Homo sapiens: one gene and its partners. Changing the gene in region 4 together with the main gene of any one other region gives a genetic interaction. Each region holds a gene or a part of one and is shown on either strand. Other genes may lie near its edges.

What was found.
Region 1: changes in FDPS (region 4) and UBA2 together harm fitness more than expected from each alone (negative genetic interaction), as found in Homo sapiens cells (one large-scale study listed by BioGRID).
Region 2: changes in FDPS (region 4) and TIMELESS together harm fitness more than expected from each alone (negative genetic interaction), as found in Homo sapiens cells (one large-scale study listed by BioGRID).
Region 3: changes in FDPS (region 4) and BDP1 together harm fitness more than expected from each alone (negative genetic interaction), as found in Homo sapiens cells (one large-scale study listed by BioGRID).
Region 5: changes in FDPS (region 4) and TRNAU1AP together harm fitness more than expected from each alone (negative genetic interaction), as found in Homo sapiens cells (one large-scale study listed by BioGRID).
Region 6: changes in FDPS (region 4) and EMC1 together harm fitness more than expected from each alone (negative genetic interaction), as found in Homo sapiens cells (one large-scale study listed by BioGRID).
Region 7: changes in FDPS (region 4) and MED23 together harm fitness more than expected from each alone (negative genetic interaction), as found in Homo sapiens cells (one large-scale study listed by BioGRID).

The regions. Positions count from the first base shown.
Region 1 is NC_000019.10:34,455,881-34,459,380, reverse strand, and holds part of UBA2 (SUMO-activating enzyme subunit 2), read right to left. Parts: intron 613-3,500; coding exon 457-612; intron 1-456. UniProt on the Homo sapiens protein: The heterodimer acts as an E1 ligase for SUMO1, SUMO2, SUMO3, and probably SUMO4. It mediates ATP-dependent activation of SUMO proteins followed by formation of a thioester bond between a SUMO protein and a conserved active site cysteine residue on UBA2/SAE2.
Region 2 is NC_000012.12:56,428,927-56,432,426, forward strand, and holds part of TIMELESS (protein timeless homolog), read right to left. Parts: coding exon 3,443-3,500; intron 2,679-3,442; coding exon 2,545-2,678; intron 2,043-2,544; coding exon 1,955-2,042; intron 1,356-1,954; coding exon 1,179-1,355; intron 175-1,178; coding exon 1-174. UniProt on the Homo sapiens protein: Plays an important role in the control of DNA replication, maintenance of replication fork stability, maintenance of genome stability throughout normal DNA replication, DNA repair and in the regulation of the circadian clock.
Region 3 is NC_000005.10:71,565,986-71,568,320, reverse strand, and holds the end of BDP1 (transcription factor TFIIIB component B'' homolog), read right to left. Parts: 3' UTR 501-2,335; downstream 1-500. UniProt on the Homo sapiens protein: General activator of RNA polymerase III transcription. Requires for transcription from all three types of polymerase III promoters. Requires for transcription of genes with internal promoter elements and with promoter elements upstream of the initiation site.
Region 4 is NC_000001.11:155,307,494-155,311,665, reverse strand, and holds the start of FDPS (farnesyl pyrophosphate synthase), read right to left. Parts: upstream 2,801-4,172; 5' UTR 2,701-2,800; exon of another isoform or gene 2,590-2,700; intron 1,878-2,589; 5' UTR 1,877-1,877; coding exon 1,701-1,876; intron 1,624-1,700; coding exon 1,461-1,623; intron 1-1,460. UniProt on the Homo sapiens protein: Key enzyme in isoprenoid biosynthesis which catalyzes the formation of farnesyl diphosphate (FPP), a precursor for several classes of essential metabolites including sterols, dolichols, carotenoids, and ubiquinones.
Region 5 is NC_000001.11:28,566,585-28,570,084, reverse strand, and holds part of TRNAU1AP (tRNA selenocysteine 1-associated protein 1), read right to left. Parts: intron 2,792-3,500; coding exon 2,672-2,791; intron 1-2,671. UniProt on the Homo sapiens protein: Involved in the early steps of selenocysteine biosynthesis and tRNA(Sec) charging to the later steps resulting in the cotranslational incorporation of selenocysteine into selenoproteins. Stabilizes the SECISBP2, EEFSEC and tRNA(Sec) complex.
Region 6 is NC_000001.11:19,215,160-19,217,842, forward strand, and holds the end of EMC1 (ER membrane protein complex subunit 1 isoform 1 precursor), read right to left. Parts: 3' UTR 501-2,683; downstream 1-500. UniProt on the Homo sapiens protein: Part of the endoplasmic reticulum membrane protein complex (EMC) that enables the energy-independent insertion into endoplasmic reticulum membranes of newly synthesized membrane proteins.
Region 7 is NC_000006.12:131,590,243-131,593,742, forward strand, and holds part of MED23 (mediator of RNA polymerase II transcription subunit 23), read right to left. Parts: intron 2,930-3,500; coding exon 2,764-2,929; intron 2,219-2,763; coding exon 2,146-2,218; intron 1,286-2,145; coding exon 1,071-1,285; intron 201-1,070; coding exon 80-200; intron 1-79. UniProt on the Homo sapiens protein: Required for transcriptional activation subsequent to the assembly of the pre-initiation complex. Component of the Mediator complex, a coactivator involved in the regulated transcription of nearly all RNA polymerase II-dependent genes.

The DNA of each region.
Region 1 (3,500 bases), on a different chromosome or scaffold from region 4:
AAAACTCTGCAAGTTACTTATACCCTTTAATACAAAGCTGGTAACTGGGGCTTTGCTCTACTGGAAATGCAAACTTTGCACTGCATGCAAATACTTATCTGCTCACTGCCACAGTGAGGACCATTCAAGGATACCTGTTATTTGTCAAAAAATACAGAATTTACCCACTGCCTGGGAAGCAAAGAGCAAAGAAGTCCTCTGCTTGCTGTGATACTGTGCCACCACTGTGCTGCAGATTCCAGTCAAATACTCCTACTCCATTCTGGGAATGTGAGGCACTTATTCTGGAACCACAGACAGAAAAGCCTGCAGGAATCCAGAAGGCAAAATAACCCAGGAAATCACAGCCACACATCTCTGCAGTTGGACCTTTTCAGAATCAGCAGCTAGTGTTTGTTTGTCATCACAGTAATACTGTAAAAGCAAAAGGAAAAGAGACCCAGGCCTTGCACTGACCTTGTCTTGTAAGGTGAGAACAGTCACTTTATGGACATTCAGCCGCACAGTCACCTCTGGCTTGCTGGCACATACATAACAATTGGGGTTGGGAGGATCCAGTGCACAAGGCACAAGAAGCTTCTTTCTTGGGTTTGGTTGTTTATTCAAAAAAATCTTTGGAGGAGAAATAACAGGCAGAAATCGGAAACGTGCTGTAATTTTATACGCCATACAATCTAAAATCTCGTTTACCAGATATCCAATAAAAAATGACTTAAAAATTCCCGTCCAGATGGCAAAATGGATCAGGAAAATCATGACCTTTTTAGGAACCTGGTTTTTCAACCTTCTTTTTTTTTTTTTTTTTTTTTTTTTTTTTTTTTTGAGACGGAGTCTTGCTGTCGCCCAGGCTGGAGTGCAGTGGCGCAATCTCGGCTCACTGCAGGCTCCGCCCCCTGGGGTTCACGCCATTCTCCTGCCTCAGCCTCCCGAGTAGCTGGGACTACAGGCGCCCGCCACCTCGCCCGGCTAATTTTTTGTATTTTTTTTTTAGTAGAGACGGGGTTTCACCGTGTTAGCCAGGATGGTCTCGATCTCCTGACCTCGTGATCCGCCCGCCTCGGCCTCCCAAAGTGCTGGGATTACAGGCGTGAGCCACCGCGCCCGGCCTCAACCTTCTTTTCTAATCAGCTAAAGGCTAGGCTAGCTAGGCTTGCTGAAAAGACATCTCCTTGTATTATATAAGACTCCGCGTTCTTCTGCAACCTGATTTGGCAAGAGTAAGGGCACAGGCATGTTAATCTGTGGTGCCATCATTGTATCAGCAGCTGGTGTCCCTCCCTGAGGCTATTCTTATCAAGCAAGCAATCTCCTGACAAGACCAACACATTAATTTCTCCAGTTAACGATAGTGCCTTTCACAGTTGTCTAGAATCAACATCACTGCCTTCCCAAATTTTCTGATTAGAATAACATTTATATAATGAGGGAAAAAAATGTATTTCTGGCAGTATATGTACCTATTTACCATTTCTCTAATACTAAACAAAAAAATAATTAAGAACCAAGGCAAATATACAAATTACACTGAAATTAAGAAAAGCTCCAAGCTCCTGCTTCTACTAAAGTTTAGAAAACACTAGCAAGATCCAACAGAAACAACAAATGTCAGAAGACAAGAAGCTGAGACACAAACCTTTATCTTGTGACTACAATGTAGTGTTGAGTCTGCTAAGAGGAATGAATTCTAAAGGAGTACTCTACGGATTCCCCTGAGAATACAGAACTAAATCCCTCAAGAGACACTAAAGCCGTCCTCTGTAAAATAGCTTCTCCGTACAATGAATACTGGTAGGTGGAAGGGCTAGAAGCAAACTGCCCAGGCCAAGCAGGCTACAGAGGGAGAAAGATTTGTTTGATTTTGGGCTTCACCGGGAAGGTAAGTGTGCTAAGGGAAACTGACAATAATAAAAGCAATTGCTACCACTATTAATACCTGGGCTAACATTAATCCAGGCTGGAATTCATTTGCAAATGTAAAAAAATGAAATCCAGATATATTACTATATTTTTTCTTGAGGCAGAGTTTCGCTCTTGTTGCCAGGCTGGAGTGCAATGGCGCGATCTCGGCTTAATGCAACTTCCGCCTCCCAGGTTCAAGTGATTCTCCTGCCTCAGCCTCCTGAGTAGCTGGGATTACAAACATGCACCACCATGCCCAGCTAATTTTATATATATATATATATATATATATATATATATATTTTTTTTTTTTTTAGTAGAGACCAGGTTTCTCCACGTTAGTCAGGCTAGTCTCGAACTTCCAATCTCAGGTGATCTGCCTGCCTCGGCCTCCCAAAGAGCTGGGATTACACGTGTGAGCCATCGTGCCCGGCCAGATATATTACTATTAATAGTCCAAGAGTGGCATGGAGCTAAGCAGGCAAAGAAACCGGAAGGATGTGATGGGAAATAACAGACATTTTAATAAGTTCAGTAATTAGTACTGTTGGTGAGCTCAAAGGGATACTACAGCTTCAGGCTGCTATAAAAAATTTTTTTTAAATAATTTAAAAACTGGGTATCGGCCAGGAACGGTGGCTCACTCCTGTAATTCTAGCACTTTGGGAGGCCAAGGTGGGCAGATCACCTGAGGTCAGGAGTTCATGACCAGCCTGGCTAACATGGTAAAACCCTGTCTCTCCTAAAACTACAAAAATTAGCCAGGCGTGGTGGCACCCGCCTGTAATCCCAGCTACTGGGGAGGCTGAGGCAGGAGAATCACTTCTACTTGGGAGGTGGAGGTTGCAGTGAGCTGAGATCGCGCCACTGCACTCTAGCCTGGGTGACAGAGCAAGACTCCATCTCAAAAAAAAGATACCAAAAAATAAAGTTCTTAGAAATTAAAAATATAACATATACAATAAAAGTTTAAATAGAAAACTAAATCAAGATGGCAGACTGGGCAATTTGATTCTGTTCCTTCAAACTGAAATTTCATGAAAATAAAATATTTTAAGAGTGCATCGAGGCTGGGCGCAATAGCTCACGCCTGAAATCCCAGTACTCTGGGAGGCTGAGAAGGGCGGATCACTTCAGGCCAGGAGTTTGAGACCAATCTGGGCAACAGGTGAAACACCGTCTCTACTAATAATACAAAAATTAGCCAGGTGTGGTGGCATGTGCCAGTAATCCCAGCTACTTGAGAGGCTGAGGCAGGAGAATCGCTAGAACCCAGCAGGTGGAGGTTGCAGTGAGCCGAGATCACATCACTGTACTCCACTGTACTCCAGCCTGGGTGAGAGCAAGATTCCACCTCAAAAAAAAAAAAAAAAAAGAAAAAGAAAAGGAAAAAAAGAGCGCATCGGGCCAAGTGCAGTGGCTCACACCTGTAATCCCAGCACTTTGGGGGGCCAAGGTGGGAGGACTGCTTGAGCCCAGGAGTTCAGGACCAACCCGGACAACATAGCAAGACCCCATCAGTTTAAAAAAAAAAGGCCGGGCGCAGTGGCTCATGCCTGTATGCCTGTAATCCCAGCACTTTGGGAGGCCGAGGTGGGCGG
Region 2 (3,500 bases), on a different chromosome or scaffold from region 4:
CTCATAGTAGTTGGTGAGGTTCTGCTCAATGAAGTGGAAGGTACGGACACTGAGGGTCTCAGAAACCAGGCCTGGCCGGAAGGAGGCAGCTCGGTTGAAGGCCATGAAGAAAGCCAAGGCCCACATATAATAGGTCTCATCATGCTGCTGAGCTTTCTCCCGAAGCAGGTGATCCTGACATTTAAAAAAGAAAAAAAAAGATCACCATGACTCCAGGGCTTCCAACTTCTTCCTTCCTGTCCTATGATGATGGAATGGATGCTGGACACCGTCATAATTTTTTTTTTTTTGAGGCGGAGTCTCACTCTATTGCCCAGGCTGGAGTGCAATGGCATGATCTCGGCTCACCGCAACTTCCACCTCCTGGGTTCAAGCGATTCTCCTGCCTCAGCCTCCTGGGTAGCTGGGATTATAGGTGCCCGCCACCACGCCCAGTTAATTTTTTGTATTTTCAGTAGAGATGGGGTTTCACCATGTTGCAGGCTGGTCTCAAACTCCTGACCTCAGGTGATCCACCTGCCTTGGACTCCCAAAGTGCTGGTATTACAGGCGTGAGCCACTGCGCCTGGTCTTTTTTTTTTTTTTTTTTTTTTTTGACAGTCTTGCACTGTCATGATGAGGCTGGAGTGCACTGGTCTGATCTCGGCTCACTGCAACCTCTGCCTCCCAGGTTCAAGTGATTATCCTGCCTCAGGCTCCTGAGTAACTGGGACTACAAATGCACACCACCATGCCGGCTAATTTTTTTTTTTTTTTGTATTTTTTTTTTTAGTAGAGATACGGTTTCACCATATTGGCCAGGTTGGTCTTGAACTCCTGACCTCAAGTGATCCACTGCCTCAGCCTCTCAAAGCGCTGGGATTACAGGTGTGAGCCACCACGCCGGGACACCGCTATAATACTCTAGGATCCACAATTTCCAACTCTCTCCTGTTCTCCCTTTCCTCTCCCTCTGAGGCAATTTTTCCAGAGCCTCTTTTGTCATGCCAGGAGCCCACTCGTTCCTGGCATTTTCACTATCTCTCAGGGACATCCTAACTGTATATCCTTCCCACCTACGAGTCCACATTCCAGGGGCAGCCTCCCCGAGCTCCTCCCCACTTCTTACCCACCAACAGCTGCATCATCACCTGTCTATTCCATTCCTGATTATCTCCATATCCTTCACAGGTTCTCACCTTTACTGATCCCATGAGCCGGTTGTAACAGTTCTCCAGGAACTCAGAGCAGAAGTCTCTGAGGAAGAGCCTCACATTGAGGGCAGAACGGCGCTGAATGGACAGCTCTCGGGCGGCCTGGCGACGTTTAGGCACCTTTTTCGGCTGCTTTCCCAAATCTGAACTGTAGTTTCGTAGCTGGGTGTGTCGGTTGGGGGATTAGAATTACTCCTAAATACCACTTTCCCCTTGCAGCTCTCGTCAATTTTCTCAGAAGAAACTAATTTTTGTTTTTCTTTTGAGACAAGAACTTGCTCTGTCACCCAGGCTGGAGTGTAATGATGCAATCATAGCACACTGGAGCCTTGAACTCCTGGGCTCAAGGAATCCTCCCACCTCAGCCTCCCGAGTAGTCAGGACCACAGGCGGGTGCCACCATGCTCAGTTAGTATTTTTCACTTGTTGTAGGGACAGGGTTTTGCCATGTTGCCCAGGCTGGTCTCGAACTCCTGGGCTCAAGCAATTCTCCTTCCTTAGCTTCTCAAAGTGTTAAGATTACAGGCATGAGCCATTGTACCCAACCTTTAATTTAATTTTTTTTTTAGAGACAGGGTCTTGCCATGTTGCCCAGTCTGATCTTGAACTTCTGGGCTCAAGCAATCCTCCTGCCTCAGCCTCCCAAAGTGCTGGGACCACAAGTGTGAGCCACCAGGCACAGCCAAGAACTCTTAAGATGATTACCCTGCTTAAGCTATGCAACTCCACTATGTTCCCACTCCAGATGTAAGAATACTCACGTTGTGAAGGCCTTTGTGAAAGATGAGGTCCCTCTCCCCAATGGATTTCAACCCCTGGACAATATAGGAGCCCCCAAATCGAGAATGCCTGCAGAAACAAAAAGGTCCAAGGTGATTTTTCAGTTCTCTGGAAACTTTATCTCCATTCTCTATCATCGGCACATTGGAGCAAGTTAAAACTACAAAATGTTGGTCGGGCACGGTGGCTCACGCCTATAATCCCAGCACTTTGGGAGGCTGAGGCAGGCGGATCACCTGAGGTCGGGAGTTTGAGACCAGCCTGGCCAACATGGTGAAACCCTGTCTCTACTAAAAATACAAAAATTAGCCTGGCATGGTGGCATGCGCCTGTAGTCCCAGCTACTGGGGAGGCTGAGGCAGGAGAATCGCTTGAACCCAGGAGACAGAGGTTGCAGTGAGCAGAGATCGTGCCAGTGCACTCCAGCCTGGGCGACAAGAGCAAAATTCTGTCTCAAAAAAAAAAAAAAAAAACACTAAAATGTTGTTCAATCACCCCACCTTAGAATTTGCCTTCTATGCCCTCAGCATTCCATGATGTAGGAAAAAGAACCTGCCTCTCTGTCACTCACCTGTTGCCTCGCTGGAGGGCTCGAGTCTTCTTTTCTGCCATCTCTCGCTGGCGCAACACCTCCAGTTCTGCAAAATCTGCACTCCGCTCCTGAGCTAAGCGTCCCTGCCCTACTCCCGCCAGCTGCTCGGGGTTCTAGATTGGAACAAAGAGGGAAGAATCAGGAGGACAGTCATTCCTTATCCTGAGTTCACGCCTACTGGGGATGCAAAGAGTGAACAAAATAGAACCCCATTAATGGGGCATTGTGCTGTCGTTCTCCCTTATCTGAGGGGGAAATGTTCTAAGACACCCACTGGATGCCTGAAACTGCAGACAGTACTGAAATATATATATGTATATATTCATATATACATATATATATTTGTATGTGTATACACATATACATAGAACATGTACGTTCTATGTTTTATAGAATGTATATATGTGCTATATATATAGTTATCAGAAAACAGAACATGTATACATATATATATACGCACATACACATATTCTATTATGTTTTTTCAATTTGATAACTAAGATGGCTAGTACATGACTAACAGGCGGGTATACACTGTGGATATGCTGGGCAGAGGGATGATTCACATCTTGTTTAGGACAAACAGGGACAAAAGATTTCATCACACTACTCAGAACAATGTACAAGTTTAAAACTTCTAAAATGTTTATTTCTGAAATTTTCCACTTAATATTTTCAGACCATGGTTGACTGTGAGTAACTGAAATCAAGGAAAGAAAACCATGAATAAGGGGGTACTACTGAACTCAAGACATGGCTACTCCTGCTGTCGCCTGCCTTCCCCAGATAATGCAGCCATTATCACAAGAGCAATTCTGGCTGTACAGCAGAAAAGTACATGGGCGGAGGGGACTCGGGCAATAGGCCAGGGTCTCACCTGGTCACGAAACATAAGGGAGACAATCTCTAGCACATGTAGGCTCCATTGCTCCTCA
Region 3 (2,335 bases), on a different chromosome or scaffold from region 4:
TTAGTGAAACCCAATGTAAGACAGGGCTCTCCAGCAGATTCAGGATGCGATGCTGCAGCAAACAGAGATGCTGTGTGGAGTCTCTTCCAAATACTATTAGGACAATCACATTGCAGACTCCTACAGCTTTGAAATAACGACATGCACACCTGTCAAAAATTTGTCTCCTCCCCACAAAGACAGGGTCTTCTTCTGTCATCCAGGCTGGAGTGTGGTGGGGCAATCACAGCTCACTGCAGCCTCAACCTCCTCCTGGGCTCAAGCGAACCTCTCATCCCAGCCTCCTGAGTAACTGGGACCAAAAGCACACACCACCACAGTTGGCTGATTTTTAATTTTTTTGTAGAGATGAGGTCTCATTATGTTGCCCAGGCTGGTCTTGAACTCCTGGGCTCAAGCAATCCTCCCACCTCGGCCTCCGAAAGTGCTGGGATTACAGGTGTAAGCCACGATACCCAGCCAATTCTTTATTTAGTCATCTTAAAAGGACACAACAGAAATGATATAAAATAACTTTTATTTACATAATTTATATATATATATAACTGCTTTCTTTAGAACAAGAAAATTTATAAATGACATGATATTGCTTTTTCTGTCAAAGACTTCTTCAAGCAAGATAGTATACATGGTCACTTTTGTTTCAAATAACATGATGGTAAACAGTGGATATTAATATTTTTGTCATGCCTCAACCATTTACCAACAATTAGGCGTTCAAATCCTCATGTTGACCACTTGCTAAGACATAAGTGTTCAGGAGAAAAAGTCAAGAAAAGATAAAAACTTTTACTCATATCTCCTTTAAAATTTGTGAAATAAATCCTTTGCAACATCTTCTTCACATGAATCAGACCTAACATAGTTCTTTCCAACATGTAAGGTAAATACATTGATTAACTTTCTCTTTTCCAAAATTAGGTTTAAGGATTTAACAGTAGGATACTTTAGCTGGCTGACTTGATTCTCTAATACAATGAGTCTCTGTATTCTTTATATAGTAAGAAATTCCATTTTCCATAAAACTAGCTCATTATAGATTAAAAAGAAACAGATGTTAAAGTTAAAAACTAATATTACACAAGGATAAATAATAGTTTAATCATGGCAATCTAACTCCCAAGCTAACACTAAGAGAATGAAATCTTTTCAGAATATGAGTTTTAAAAACTTACAAAAACAGGGTATTCAAATAGCAATGTGATTTACTACCATGATTTCTGTGACATATCAATCATGAAATAAATGCCTACTTATAGACAATTTCCGCTCCGAATTATATAGCCTCCTCTCTGACAAAGTGTTACGCCATAAATTTCACTAAAAGACAATGAATAAGAAGTGCTCTAACAGCAGTAGTTTCAATAAATTAGCATTACTGTTATATGTGCTGAGACATAATTCTCTTCTATTAAGGAACTTAAAAACTGGCCACCATTTTTTCAATATACAAACATAATTATCTAGACTCTAAAATATCTTCCCAACTGAAATACTGATCATTACATAATACAGTCAACAGTTTTAACTTTTAGGCACAACTCATAACTTTAGTGACAAATAACTCATCCATACAGATATCAGCACCTCAGGGTAAGAAAATTTGGGGCCTAATGTAGGGGGTCAAACTAAAAGGCCAATCCAGCCACAGTCCTTCATTCAAGTACTGTCTATGGCTTCTTTCACACTGAAATTGCAGAGCTGAGTAGCTGCCACAGAGACCATCTGGCCTGCAAACCCAAAACAGTTTGCAGAAAGTTTCCAATGCCTGAGCTACTATACTATCAATCCAAGAGGCTTTTCAAATAAAATCAGGATAAATTTGCTGTTTGAGAAGTCTAATTGGAACCACTACAGATCTGCTTGGGTAGATAATAGAATTACACGTATAAAAAATCAAATCTTGAAATTAAAACAAACCTTAAATTCATACTGATGATAATCATTAACTTTATAAAGCCTTATTTTCTCTGTTTTTAACATCATGATTATGTTCCGTGCTTAAAGATCCAAGTGTTCCTTGAGAATTTAATGGGAAAAAACTATGAAGAAATTGGCTTTTTAAAAACTAATATTATGTCTGTGGGTGTATAAAGGAGATTGAGCTTTGTATGGAAATTTTGTCTCATAAATAAAGTTGAGTTCCCCCTATCCTCATGAAAATCCTGAGATTATCCAAGAAAAGCAGAAAAATTTACAGTACAAAGTCAATATACTAAACTGAGGGGAAAAAGGTATTCAAAACATATACACCAGCTAAACATTTTTAGTTATATCATTTTAAATATCTTTAAAATTAAACAGAAAAAGGAGACAAACATAAATTTAATGCCTT
Region 4 (4,172 bases):
CCACGGAAAACTCAGTACATGCTATAGGGATGACTGGCTTGTTCAGGTCCCTCCCCAGTTTCCTTCCCCATCCCCACCTCTCCTAGACTTCCCCTTCACAACCCATCCCTACTTTTCCAGCCACCTCTGCCTACCAGGGTTCAACCCTCCTGCAAATGAAAAGCCTCCTTCATTATATTAAAACAAAGCCTCTCCAAAGTCAGCCAGAAGACAGCTTACAGGGGACCCACGCTGTGGGATCCATCTCCCACTCCTCCAGTAGTGTCTCCTCTTGCATCTCACTTTGCCTTCTGCTGCCTGGCTATCAATCAGACCTAACTAACAGGGAAGACTTCATCTCGCTATGTCACTCAGGCTGGAGTGCAGTGGCACAATCACGGCTCACTGCAACCTCCGCCTCCCAGGTTCAAGTGATTCTCCTGCCTCAGCCTCCTGAGTAGCTGGGACTACATGTGGGCGCCACCACGCCCAGCTAATTTTTGTATTTTTAGTAGAGACGGGGGTTTCACCATGTTGACCAGGCTGGTCTCGAACTCCTGACCTCATGATCCCCCCCACCTCAGCCTCCCAAAGTCCTGGGATTACAGGCGTGAGCCACCATGCCGGGCCAAGACTCTTTTAATCCCCATTCCAGTATAGGCAAAGCCCCCCTTTCCCTTCATTCCCCTGAGATATATGAGATAGACAGCATTTATAAAAAGAATTTTAATAGATACTCCAGAATCAACAGGAAAAAAATTGGCAAGTATCACAGCAATAGTTCATGTTCTAGAATAGGGGTTTCTAATGATACAATAACTTCACTCAGGCCCCAGGGAGATAGGACAATATCAGACTGCCTTCTTCCCCGGTCTCTGCCAACCTAACAGCTTCTGATTTCAGGACACAAAATCTAAGACTTGCCAGGTTCAAGGCCTCCACCCCCAAAGCAAAGCAGTTTGGATGACCCACCTTCCATCAGAGCCAAAAGTCCGGTTGATGGACTGAGTAAGTATACTTGCCCAGGCCCCAACCTCTCCAGAGCAGACTCGAGTCCCTCAGGTAAAAGCTTTCTCGGCCAGGCGCGGTGGCTCACACCTGTAATCCCAGCACTTTGGGAGGCCGAGGTGGGTGGATCACCTGAGGTCAGGAGTTCGAGACCAGCCTGGTCAACACAGTGAAACCCCGTCTCTATTAAAAATACAAAAGTTTGCTGGATGTGGTGGCACGCACCTGTAATCCCAGCTACTCAGAAGGCTGAGGCAGGAGAATCACTTGAACCCAGGAGGTGGAGGTTGCAGCAAGCCGAGATCACACCATCGCACTCCAGCCCAGGTGACAGAGCAAGGCTCTGTCTCAAAAAAAAAAAAAAAGCTTTCTCTCACATCTGTCAAAAGTCCCCCATAAGCCACAGGTGAATGCCACACAGGTACAGAGCAACTGAACCAAAGCCTTACTCCCCCAAGTCATGAATCCCTCACCTCCTTGAGCCGGGCAATAGCATCTCCTATCTCTGGGTGCCCCATCTCATCCTCAGTCAGCACCCTAACGATCTGGGAGAAGTGCTGAACGAAATCCTGCTTTTCTTGGGCATAAACATCTGAATTCTGGTCTCCGTTCATTCTGAGGGAGGAGCAAAGGGCTCTAAGTAGAAGAAAAACAAGTCAGAAACCTGATCAGCTGCTCCCCTCCCCAAGGCCCCTCACCCCAACCACACTCACCGAGGTTCCTCTGTCCACGCTTGGCACCAGCAGCGGGCACTGTGCCAGGCCAGGACTGGGTACCCGTGCACCAGGGAGGGCCGCCGTAGGGAACCCAGCCACCTCTCCCGGGGTGCCCAGTAGGGGGCTGGCAGCAGGAAGACCCCCACAGATCTCAACCAGCGGGACAGGGGCATCCTGGGAGTGGCATAGGGAGGGGGCACTAAGCACTCCCTGCAGGGGCAAGCACCAAAGGCAGAGGCATGGTGGCAGCTCCCCAGATAACTCCCACCCCAGCCTTAGCCCAGAGTGCCCCTCCCTCTTGTGGAATGTGCTTGGGGACAATTACAGGAAGGATACGCAGGGAACAAAAAAGTATGGCTGGGTGACTGAGACCCAACTAATCACCACTTACAATAAACAGGCTAGAACTCAGTGCCTTCAAGATGGCGTGCACAAGGCTGGGTAAGGAGGCGGTACAGAGTAAAGTACCCCAGGATTAGGGGCTGAAAGGACCCTTAAGTCATCCTATTTTACACAAGCCAAACTGAGGCTCTAGGAGGTAGGAAGATAGTAGAGGCAGAGCCAAATCTAGAACCCAGGTCTCCCCTGGGCAGTGGAGAGGGGTGCCCAGGGTCTGAGTTACGCCCCAAGGAGGAAAGAAGCATTGGAGCGAGAACCCATGGGTGCTGCATCCATATGGTCCGGGGTGCTTGAACCGCGCGTCCCAAGCCCCACAGGAATCGCTAGGACTGAGCAGATAGGCTCGGAGCAACTCTGGACGGGAGAGAAGGGCTCGCAGCAAAGGAGTAAACCGGGGTCCGGGCATATTGGGGATTCCAGGAAAGCACAAGGGCAGAGTTGGGAAGTCTCCACACCCCTAGAAGGCCAGCCAGTCTAGCCCACCGACCTTCAAAACGGACACAACAGGCTGGCCTTCCGATGCCTCACAGTATCGTTACAGAAGTAAGGCCCGGTCTCGGCCCCCTTCCTCCAAGGCCCAGCACACATCCTCTCTCACCTGTTCCCAGATACGGATTCCTGCTCGGTCCCGCTTGTTGGCGGGTACTCCTAAAAGCAGAATCCGCTCCGCGATCGGCTCTGTGGGTCGAGTAGTTCCCGCTCTCCCCACACTAAGGGCGGAAATATATAATTAGACTACAACTCCCAATGTGCCCGCGGGAGGGACAGATAACGCGATCCTGCGTGTCCTGGCTGGGCGAAGATGAGCCGCGCTGATTGGCTGCTGGCCGTCGTGTGAGCATGGCGCACTGTGGCACTGTGACGGACGACCAATGGAAGGGCTGAAGTCTAGAGGTCGCGGCTGGAGGCGTCAGTGCCGGAAGCGAGCCAGGCTGGGAACGTCCCCGCTGTGGCTTTGGCTGCCTGTCTTACTCAAGTTTTCATTATCTTCCTGGGCAGCTGATTGGCACGTTAGTAAAACGCAGCAGGACTAGCTTTCTCACTTATTAGTTCTCTAACTTTAGGCAAATCATTTAACGTCTCTGATCCTCAGTGAACTTGCTTGAAACTAGCTTTCCTCATCTGTTGAATGAGGGTGGTAATACCATGAGGTAATGTGTGCAAAGTGCTTTAAGGGCTTAAGAAAGATGAGTCTTGGGCCGGGCACGGTGGCTCACGCCTGTAATCCCAGCACTTTGGGAGGCCGAGGCGGGTGGATCATGAGGTCAGGAGTTCGAGACCAGCCTGACCAATGTGGTGAAACCCCGTCTCTACTAAAAATACAAAAAAAAAAAATTAGTCGGGCGTGGTGGCGCGCGCCTGTAATCCCAGCCACTCAGGAGGGCTGAGGCGGGAGAATCGCTTGAACTCGTAAGGCAGAGGTTGCAGTGAGCTGAGATCCAGCGAACCACTGCACTCTAGCTGGGGAGACAGAGCAAGACTCCGTCTCAAAAAAAAAAAAAAAAAAAGATGAGTCTCACACTTGTAATTCCAGCACTTTGGGCGGATCACCTGCGGTCAGGAATCTGAGACCAGCCTGGTCAACATGGCAAAACCCCTTCTCTACTAAAAATACAAAAATTACCCAGGTGTGCTGGTCCGCGCCTTAATTCCAGCTACGTGGGAGGCTGCAACCTCGCTTCCCGGGTTCAAGTGATTCTCCTGGATTACAGGTGCCTGCCAGCATGCCCAGCTAATTTTTGTGTTTTTAGTAGAGAGGGGGTTTCTCCAGATTGGCCAGCCTGGTCTCGAACTCCTGACCTCAAGTGATCCAGCCACCTCGACCTCTGAAAGTGCTGGGATTACAAGTACGAGCCACTTGGCCCAGGCAGTTATTTATTGATTATAAGCTAAACAAGGGTTGGATTATTCATGCCTCTGCTTTGTAGACCATATACAGTTAACTCCCTGATGTCGACACAGCATGTGGTAGGAGTATAGCGTTGAAGACCACCAGAGGTCACTCTTGTTGCCATCTTGGTTTTGGTAGGTTTTGGCCAGTTTCTTTACTGCAATCTGTTTTATCAGCAA
Region 5 (3,500 bases), about 130 Mb from region 4:
CCCAACTCAGCCTCCCAAAGTGTTGGGATTACAGGCGTGAGCCACAGCACCCCGCCTTTTGTTTTCGTTTTTTTTGTTGTTGTTTTGAGAGAGTCTTGCTCTGTCGCCCAGGCTGGAGTGCAGTGGCGCGATCTCGGCTCACTGCAACCTCCGCCTCCTGGGTTCATGCCATTCTCCTGCCTCAGTCTCCCGAGTAGCTGGGACTATAGGCGCCCACCAGCACGCCCGGCTAATTTTTTTTTTTTTTTTTTTTGGTATTTTTAGTAGAGACGGGGTTTCACCATGTTAGCCAGGATGGTCTCAATCTCCTGACCTTGTGATCTGCCCGCCTCGGCCTCCCAAAGTGCTGGGATTACAGGCGTGAGCCACTGCACCTGGCCTTTTTTTTTTTTTGAGATGGAGTCTCACACTGTCACCCAGGCTGGAGTGCAGTGGCACAATCTTGGCTCACTGCAAGCTCTGCCTCCTGGGTTCATGCCATTCTCCGGTCTCAGCCTCTCTGAGTAGCTGGGATTACAGGTGCCCGCCACCACACCTGGCTAATTTTTTGTATTTTTAGTAGAGACGGGGTTTCACCATGTTAGCAAGGATGGTCTCGATCTCCTGACCTTGTGATCCACCCACCTCGGCCTCCCAAAGTGCTGGGATTACAGGCATGAGCCACCACGCCCAGCCTATTTTGTTTTTTAAGAGACACGGTCTCACTCTGTTGCCTGGGCTAGAGTGCAGTGGAGTTATCATAGCTCATTGTAACCTTGAACTCCTAGGCTCAATCAATTCTCCCACTTCAGCCACCAGAGCAGCTGGGACTAGAGGAGTACACCAAGCCCAGCTAATTTAATGTTTTTATATAATAATTTATTTACAACAAATAACATTTTTGGGAGAAGTCACTAAGCCTGATCTTCAATGTATTAAACACAGTTAAACCATAAAGAACCCCTAAATCATTGCTTTCAAAAACATGGCTATTTGGCTGGGCGCAGTGGCTCACGCCTGTAATCCCAGCACTTTGAGAGGCCAAGGCAGGCAGATCACCTGAGGTCAGAAGTTCAAGACCAGCCTGATCAACATGTGAAACCCTGTCTCTACTAAAAATACAAAAATTAGCTGGGCTTGGTGGCACATGCCTGTAGTCCCAGCTACTCGGGAGGCTGAGGCAGGAGAATCGCTTGAACCTGGGAGGTGGAAGCTGAAGTGAGTCAAGATCACGCCACTGCATTCCAGCATGGGCAAAAGAGCAAGACACCATCTCAAAAAAAAAAAAAAAATAGTTCAACTACTCTTAGGGTAGAGTTTCTCAGCCCTGGATCTATTGACGTGGAGGGGTGGGTGGCTGTCCGATGAATTGCATGATGTTTAACAGTATCCTTGGCCGATACCCACTAGGTGCCATTAGTACATCCTTGGTTGTGATAACCAAAAATGTCTCCAGATGTTGTCAATGTCCTCTGGGAGGCAAAATCACTCCAGTTGAAAATCATTAATTTGGCTAAAGGATAAAAGATCTGGCCAGGCACAATGGCTTATGCCTGTAATCCCAACACTTTTGTAGGCCAAGGTGGGCAGATTGCTTGAGCCCAGGAATTCGAAACCAGCCTGGGCAACAAAGCAAGACCCTATCTCTACAAAAAACACAAAATTTGCCTAGCATGGTGGTGTGCACCTGTAGTACCAGCTAATCAGGAGGCTGAGATGGGAGGATCCCGAGCCTGGGGAGGTCGAGGCTGCAGTGAGACATGATCTCCAGCCTGGGTGACTTTGAGATCCTGACTCAGGGAAAAAACAAACAAACAAAAAATCCCATTCAGAGAAAAGTTTGGAGTTGTAAGGGAAGAAGATTTTCTACCTAGCATGACAGGTGTGATAGTGAAGTATATAATGTTCTGTAGAGTGTCTGGAAAATTTTTCTTTTTTATTTGAGACGGAGTCTTGCTCCGTTGCCCAGGCCAGAGTGCACTGATGCCATCTCGGCTCACTGCAACCTCCGCCACCCAGGTTCAAGCGATTCTCCTGCCTCAGCCTCCCGAGTTGTTGGGACTACAGGCATGCACCACCATGACTGGCTAATTTTTGTATTTTTAGTAGAGATGAGGTTTTGCCATGTTGGCCAGGCTGGTCTCGAACTACTGACCTCAGGTGATCCGCCCACCTCAGCCTCCCAAAGTCCTGGGGTTACAGGTGTGAGCCACTGCGCCCGGCCAAGTGTCTGGAATACTAATTCTTATCCATTCCCACAGCATGGAACACTCATAGGAGGGCTGTAGTTTCATTAATATAAATAAGGCTAAAAATGGAAGTAATTTTTTCCCCTTTATTCAAATCTTATTAATTCTATGAATAAGTTCCCAACAATGGGACTACTGGGCAAAGAACAGGGACATCAGGTATGGACAGCCAAACAGCTTTTCCAATGCTGTCACCAGTAATGTCTGAATACATCAGCCTTTCCAAATCATACTCTATCCCCAACTCTAAGTTTCTGCAGGAGTGGGGCTAGTTCAACCCCAGCACCCACAGCCTGGCAAACAGCAGGCATTCAGTACTTGTGACTTGAATTGGATCCCCTTCAGCCTCCCATCCAGCGTATGGATGCCCTGATTCTCAGCAAACAAAAGAGGAGTGTCTGGAGGGGAGTCTAGAGTCTCTCTACCTTCCCTGCAGGACTCACGCTTTAGGGATTGCCACGCTCAGCCGCACAGGCTTAGACCCCAGTCCCACTGCTCCCTGGCACTCCGTCAGGGCTCGCTTCTGTTCCAGTTCATCTGTGAATTTCACAAAACCATAACCCCTGCATGAAAAAAATATACAATTTAGATCACAAATGTGATTAAAGTCTAAGAATGGACACATGAAAAAGAAGTAAGGATAAGAAGGTGGGCAGGAATGTAGAAAGGAAAAGAGGCTGAGAAGAGAAAGAGAGAGTCCATTAAACTAGAGGAAGAAAGGAGAGTCCCATCAACAGGTGTCCACATAGTGTCAAGATCCAAGTACAAACAATTCTAATATCTGCAGGAATTCCCACATTCAGTTCACCATCCTCCTCGACACCTTCACCCCTAGGGAACATTCCCAAATAGGAGCTTCCCCGACACCCTGCTGGAAAGTAACTCATAGAAGAAAATTCAGCAAATATTTACAGTCTGCCCTGTATGCCAGGCACTGTGCTACGCACAGGATGCAGCAGTCACAGAAAGACAACGTTCCTGCTCTCCTGAGCTCAAATTCTAGCAGAGGAATAAATTAATGCAAGCTAACATTTAATAAATATTTATTTCCCTAGCACTGCGCAGAGCATTTTCTCTCTCTTTTTTTTTTTTTTTTTGAGATGGAGTTTCACTCTTGTTGCCCAGGCTGGAGTGCAATGGCGTGATCTCGGCTCACTGCAAGCTCCGCCTCCCATGTTCACGCCATTCTTCTGCCTCAGCCTCCAGAGTAGCTGGGACTACAGGCACCCACCACCATGCCCAGCTGATTTTTTGTATTTTATTTTTTTAGTA
Region 6 (2,683 bases), about 140 Mb from region 4:
TGTGGTAGCACACTCCTGGAGTCCCAGCTACTCGGAAGGCTGAGGCAGGAGGATTTCTTGAACCCGGGAGGTGGAAACTGCAGTGAGTCGAGATCAAGGCACTGCACTCCAGCCTGGGAGACAGAATGAGACTCTGTCTCAAAAAAAGGAAAAAAATCCTTTACTAAGTCACCGAAGTCTTAGAAATTTGGGAAACTGAGGACAAAGTTCCTAAGGGTTCTGGAGAAGAAGGTACAGCCATTTGGGGAACTATTTGTCAAGGAGCAACTTCATGTCTGGGACAATAGGTAATTCAGAAAACAGTCCCTAAGAGACACAATATCTGAAATAATAAAGGGGTGTGGTATATCACTCAGGAAGTTACGTGGTAAGCAGCCAGGATGGTTGAAGGTCCTGAGTAGCTGAAACCAATAGGGAAGACTTTATGGAGGAGTTCAGATTTGAGACAAGCCAGATTTTAAGCAGGGAAGAAAACATTCCAAGTAAAGAAAACAGAATGGTTTCATGATTTAAAAGCAATTTTTTCATTTTATTTATTTTTGAGACAGGGTCTCACTGTGTTGCCCAGACTGGAGTGCAGAGGCATGATCTCGGCTTACTGCAGCCTTTGCCTCCTGGGTTCGATTCTCCTGCCTCAGCCTCCCAAGTAGCTGGGATTACAGGCATGCACCACCACACCTGGCTAAATTTTTTTATTTTTTTGGTAGAGATGGGGTTTCAGGTTTCACCATGTTGGCCAGGCTGGTCTTAAACTCCTGACCTCAAATGATCTGCCTGCCTTGGCCTCCCAAAGTGCTGGGATTATAGGCTTGAGCCACCATGCCTCGCCTAAAAGCAAAATTTTAAATAATTAGGAATCAGGAAATGAGTCTTGGGATGATTCTGATGATACTTTGTGTAATAGGCTCTTTAAAAGTATGACAATTTATGGGCCAGGTGCAGTAGCTCATGCCTGTAATCCCGGCACTTTGGGAGGCTAAGGAGGGAGGATCACTTCAGCCCAGGTGTTCGAGGCTGCAGTGAGCTATGACTGTGCCACTGCTCTCCAGCCTGGGTGACAGAGACCCTGCCTCCAAAAAAAAAGCAATTTATAAAGGCAGTGAAATTACAATTATGAAATTTTCAAATTGAAAGATGCCTTACGGAGCACATAACATGTACCCACACACAAATAATGAAACTAGTTCAGATTAGATAGCTTACATTAAAGTCTCTAACACTTAAATTAGGAATTGAGTATTTTTTCTATCAGACTTTGTTCCAGAAACTATTTCAGTCATCTTTATGAATACATGATATTCAAGATACATTAGCTGAGCCTTTATAAAAACATCTCATGTACCCCATAAGTATATGTACCTAATATGTACCCACAAAAAATTTAAATAAAAAACTTTAAAAGATCCATTAGTTGAAAAAACAAGTAACAGAATTAAATAGCATCATCTCATTTAAGAAAACACTGTATACAAGAACAAACACTAGACTACCAGTGCTCATATACGTAATTAATGAATACTAAAACAAACTAGTTTTTGTTTTTGTTTTTGAGCCAGGGTCTCACTCTGTTGCCCAGGCTGGAATGCAGTAGCATGTTCATGGCTCACTGCAGCCTCGACCTCCCAGGCTCAAGTGATCCTCCTACCTCAGCCTCCTGAGTAGCTAGGACCACAGGCACATGCCACCAGGCCCGGCTAATTTTTTTTTATTTTTTGTAGATAGAGTCTTGCTATGTTGCCCAGGCTGGTCTGGAACTCCTGGGCTCAAGAGATCCTCCACTATGGCCTCCCAAAGTGCTGGGATTATAGGCATGAGCCATCACGCCCAGCCAAATCTTTTTACGTGAAACACCATGGGGCCCCAAAATTAACCTAATTAATGAAGACAGGAGAAGAGGTAAGTCAAGGAATACACACAAAAAACAAGGAATGACAAGAAAGCAAATAGATCAGAGAATTGAGAGAGGAAACATAGTCTCAGCAGCCATTAGTGGAGACTGAGTGTAGCTGCTCAGAACCGAATGCTGCTTTAAGATTAAGGAAAGTTGAGAACTAAGAAAAGATTTAAATTGGACTGTGGCATTAGCATTAACTATTTTAAGCACTTGGCCAAGCTCGGTGGCTCACACCTGTAATCCCAGCACTTTGGGAGGCCAAGGCCAGCAGATCACTTGAGGCCAGGAGTTCGAGACCAGCCTGGCCAACACAATGAAACCCCGTCTCTACTAAAAATACAAAAAATTAGCTGAGCGTGGTGGCACATGCCTATAGTCCCAGCTGCTTGTGAGGTGGAGGTTGCCGTGAGCCAAGATCGTGCCACTGCACTCCAGCCTGGGCAACAGAGTGAGATTCTGTCTCAAAAAAAAAAAAAGCACCTGCTTTGAGGTAACTTTGATTACAGCTGAAATACAGGGAATTTTACTAAAGGACAAATACCTTCCCTCCCAGTAGCTTGTTTCAGATTCTGGCACACTGGTAAATAAAAACTAGAATCTTGCAGGCTAACCTTGCACATATGTATGTAAGACAGTCAGAATTCCAGCCAGGCTTTCTCAAAACTAGGGCAGAATTTTTTTTAACTTGTACTTAACTCTCTTCTCCCAGGTTATGTTAAAATATGCCTTGGGTCAGGATGATAGATGCCTGTTTTTTTCTGGAGATTCTTAGACATTCAGTCACTCAAT
Region 7 (3,500 bases), on a different chromosome or scaffold from region 4:
TTCAATAACACTGGTAAAGAAACTTAAATAGATACTTCAGAATTTAATCATGTCACAGGAAACCCAGATTATATTTTACCTCTATCATACAACGAGTTCTCTCTTGCTGAAATCTTTGTAAAAATGGTCCAACAAGATGGTATACATAAAGCAACTGGAATTCGGTCTTCACTATAGGAAGAAGTACTTCAGTAAGAAACCTAAAATTTGAAGATAAAAATCTCCTGTGACTTGAAATTATTTAAATTGTTTGAATTTTGTTCATACAGTATATACAAAGTATTACAATAAAATATAATTTTTTAAAGTTCCTTTTAATTTGGTAACAATAATATTTCTAATTAATCTCACATCTCTCACTGGCTATTACTTTCACTTGATTATTTTTATTTATTTATTTTTTTGAGACGGAGTCTCACACTGTTGCCTGGGCTGGAGTGCAGTGGCGTGATCTTGGCTCACTGCAACCTCCGCCTCCTGGGTTCAAGTGATTCTCCTGCTGACTAGCTGGGATTACAGGTGCACACCACCACGCCTGGCTAATTCTTTTATTTTTAGTAGAGACGGGGTTTCACCATGTTGGCCAGGATGGTCTCAATCTCCTGACCTTGTGATCCACCCATCTCGGCCTCCCAAATTGCTGGGATTACAGGCATGAGTCACCGCGCCCAGCCGCAAGTTGTTCTAATGAATGAAGTATATACCTCATCTGTTAATGAGATTAGAACAAAATGAAATACAATTTTTTTTTTTTTTTCAGATGGAGTCTCACTCTGTCACCAGGCTGGAGTGCAGTGGCGCGATCTTGGTTCACTGCAATTTCCAGCTCCCTGGTTCAAGTGATTCTCCTGCCTTAGCCTCCCGAGTAGCTGGGGTTACAGGCACACACCACATGCCCAGCTAATTTTTGTATTTTTAGTAGAGATGGGGTTTCACAATGTTGGCCAGGATGGTCTCAATCGCCTGACCTTGTGATCTGCCCACCTCGGCCTCCCAAAGTGCTGGGATTACAGGCATGAACCACCGCACCCAGCCTACGTCAAATTTCTTTAAGAAATTATTATACTTACTTTGGAATGAGAGAAAGTTGTCCGATGCTAGAATGGTGCCACACAGCATGTGCAAGAGCTAACGTATAGCTACAACTCATCTCAGAGTAGGACTGATGACAGGCAGTGAAATCAAAGAGGCGGAATGGATAGCCAACCCACTCTGTTTCAGACGTCAAGCTGGGGCTGCTGATGACACTCACAATTCGATCATGAAGAACAATCCAATATGGCTCCTTTAAAATCGGAGGAAAGCTAGTGAAAAATATCACTTATCCAGCATTCCACCCCAAAGTCTAAAGTAATAGTGTTTTCTCATTCTTTAAAGTTTTCTATTTTTCCAGCTTCTGCACAATACAGCTGGGTGGCTTTGTAACTGGTCAAATTAAGTCAGTAACAACCTGGGAGAAGTAACTGTGAGTTAAGGGGCTCCATACATGTATCTGTCCAGCTCATTTAGGTACCTGATATACACTATGCAGTAAATCAATTAATTTATCAAACAATAAATCTATAGCTTTATTACTTATTTAAAAATAATAAACTTTAAAAAAATATGTGTGGAGGTCAGAGAAAGGAGTCTTCATGTGAGCTGGAAAAGTCAGGGAAGGCTTCATTCACTGAGAAAGGAGGCTCTAAGCTAGCAAAGAATGAATAGGCTTTAGAGAAGGTGATGGAAAGAAGAAGCTTCTGGAATAAGAAAAATGTCTTATTCCCTCACATTCAGAAGTACCTAAAACATGTCTTAAGCACTATCTGAAGGAACAAAGGCTGTAGATATACAACACGTTAAGTGGCCAAGAGTAGATCAAGCTATTATGTAAAAACTAAAGTTGGATAGGTAAGGTGGTACCAGAAAATGCAGAGACCCGTAAGTCACATAGATATATTTAGATCTAATACAGAAAAGCAAAAACTAGTCACTGTAGATTTTTAAAGCAGTAATAATATGAAAAAACTTTAAAAACATAAAATACTTCATTAATTTGCATGACGTCCCGTACAAGGGCATCCTATATGCATCTTTTTCTTTTTGCTGACATGGAACAGCTGGCTGTATTTCATCACTAAGTACAAATCACAATTATTAACTCACTGGTAGGGCAGTGATGATCAAACCAATTGCATTCATCCATGCTGTAATGTTCTCTCTTGGCACTAAAGGCTGACTGCAACCGGCAAAAAAGAATGTAAGTATGAATTTATAAAAACATTTTAGATGGCTGACAACGGATCTTATTTTTAAAGAATATGTCTAATTCAGAGGATCGACAACTAATCCATTTCAATAAAACAATGGGGAATTTTTTATTGAATAAAAATGTAATATGCATAAAAACTCAAGAAGGCTTTTTAAAAATACTTCCTCCCCAATCATTATCCCATACTTCATGCTAATTTTTAAAAGAATCTTGAAATCTTGAAAACAAGATGAAGAGAATCTTGTTTTAAGTGACAAGTTAACATTATTCCTATATTAAATGTCAAACTGCTATTAATGAGTAGAAGTAGGAACAAACCCGGATCTTAGGATCCTGTCCAGGGCTCATTCCATAACTCCTATATCACAAAGACAAGATCTGGAACCAGAAAACAGTCATCATCCAATGTGCATCAGCCTTGCGGCAACAGGTTTGTCTTAAAAGTTTGAAATAGAATACCATTCTATTTACAAATAAACAACAAATCTTACTGCATGAACCAGAATACATACCTTTTTAGGACAACATTTAGAAGGGCATTCCCAACTTCTTTGCCTGAAACTGCCAAGGCCATGAGCTCCACACAAGTAACATGGAGAGCATGGGCAGCTGGGTTGGGAAACTCATTGAATCTCCAGTCACAGTTTGGAAAGGGACCAGGAGATTTGCCAGCCATCGGTGCACACAGTTAAAGCAATAACAATTGGACTATCTCATCTGATTGTCAATTTATCTGATTATGAGCTGCCAAGAAGTGATTTGTCTACGCTTAGAGAGATTAAGAGGCAAATGCAAACCAAATACAAATGAGTTTGACATGATTGAAATGTATTAAAAGCAACCATTTGATTAACCACAGGTATAAATGGTTGGTCTTTCAGGTGGGTTCTTATAAATATGACATATAATAGCCACAGATGCAACCAAGGTTTACCTAGGTTTCATGAGCCTATTTCTTTTAATAGTTATAAGACATTAATATGAAAATTATTTTCTAATGAGTCATTCTTTTGCTTCAGAAAATAAATTCCTTTGTGTAGGAAAATAAGTCATGCTCATTTATGTAGAATTTCTTACCTAGTAAAATAGTGGTATGGTTATAGACATTAAGTATAGAGTGCTAATAACTGAAAATATAAAATCAAAATGAAGAAATAAACATCCAAGTATATTTTCACTAAAATATACCTTTTCAATAAAGAAAAATATATTTTATCATTTATTATTTACTACAAACATTAATTTTTTT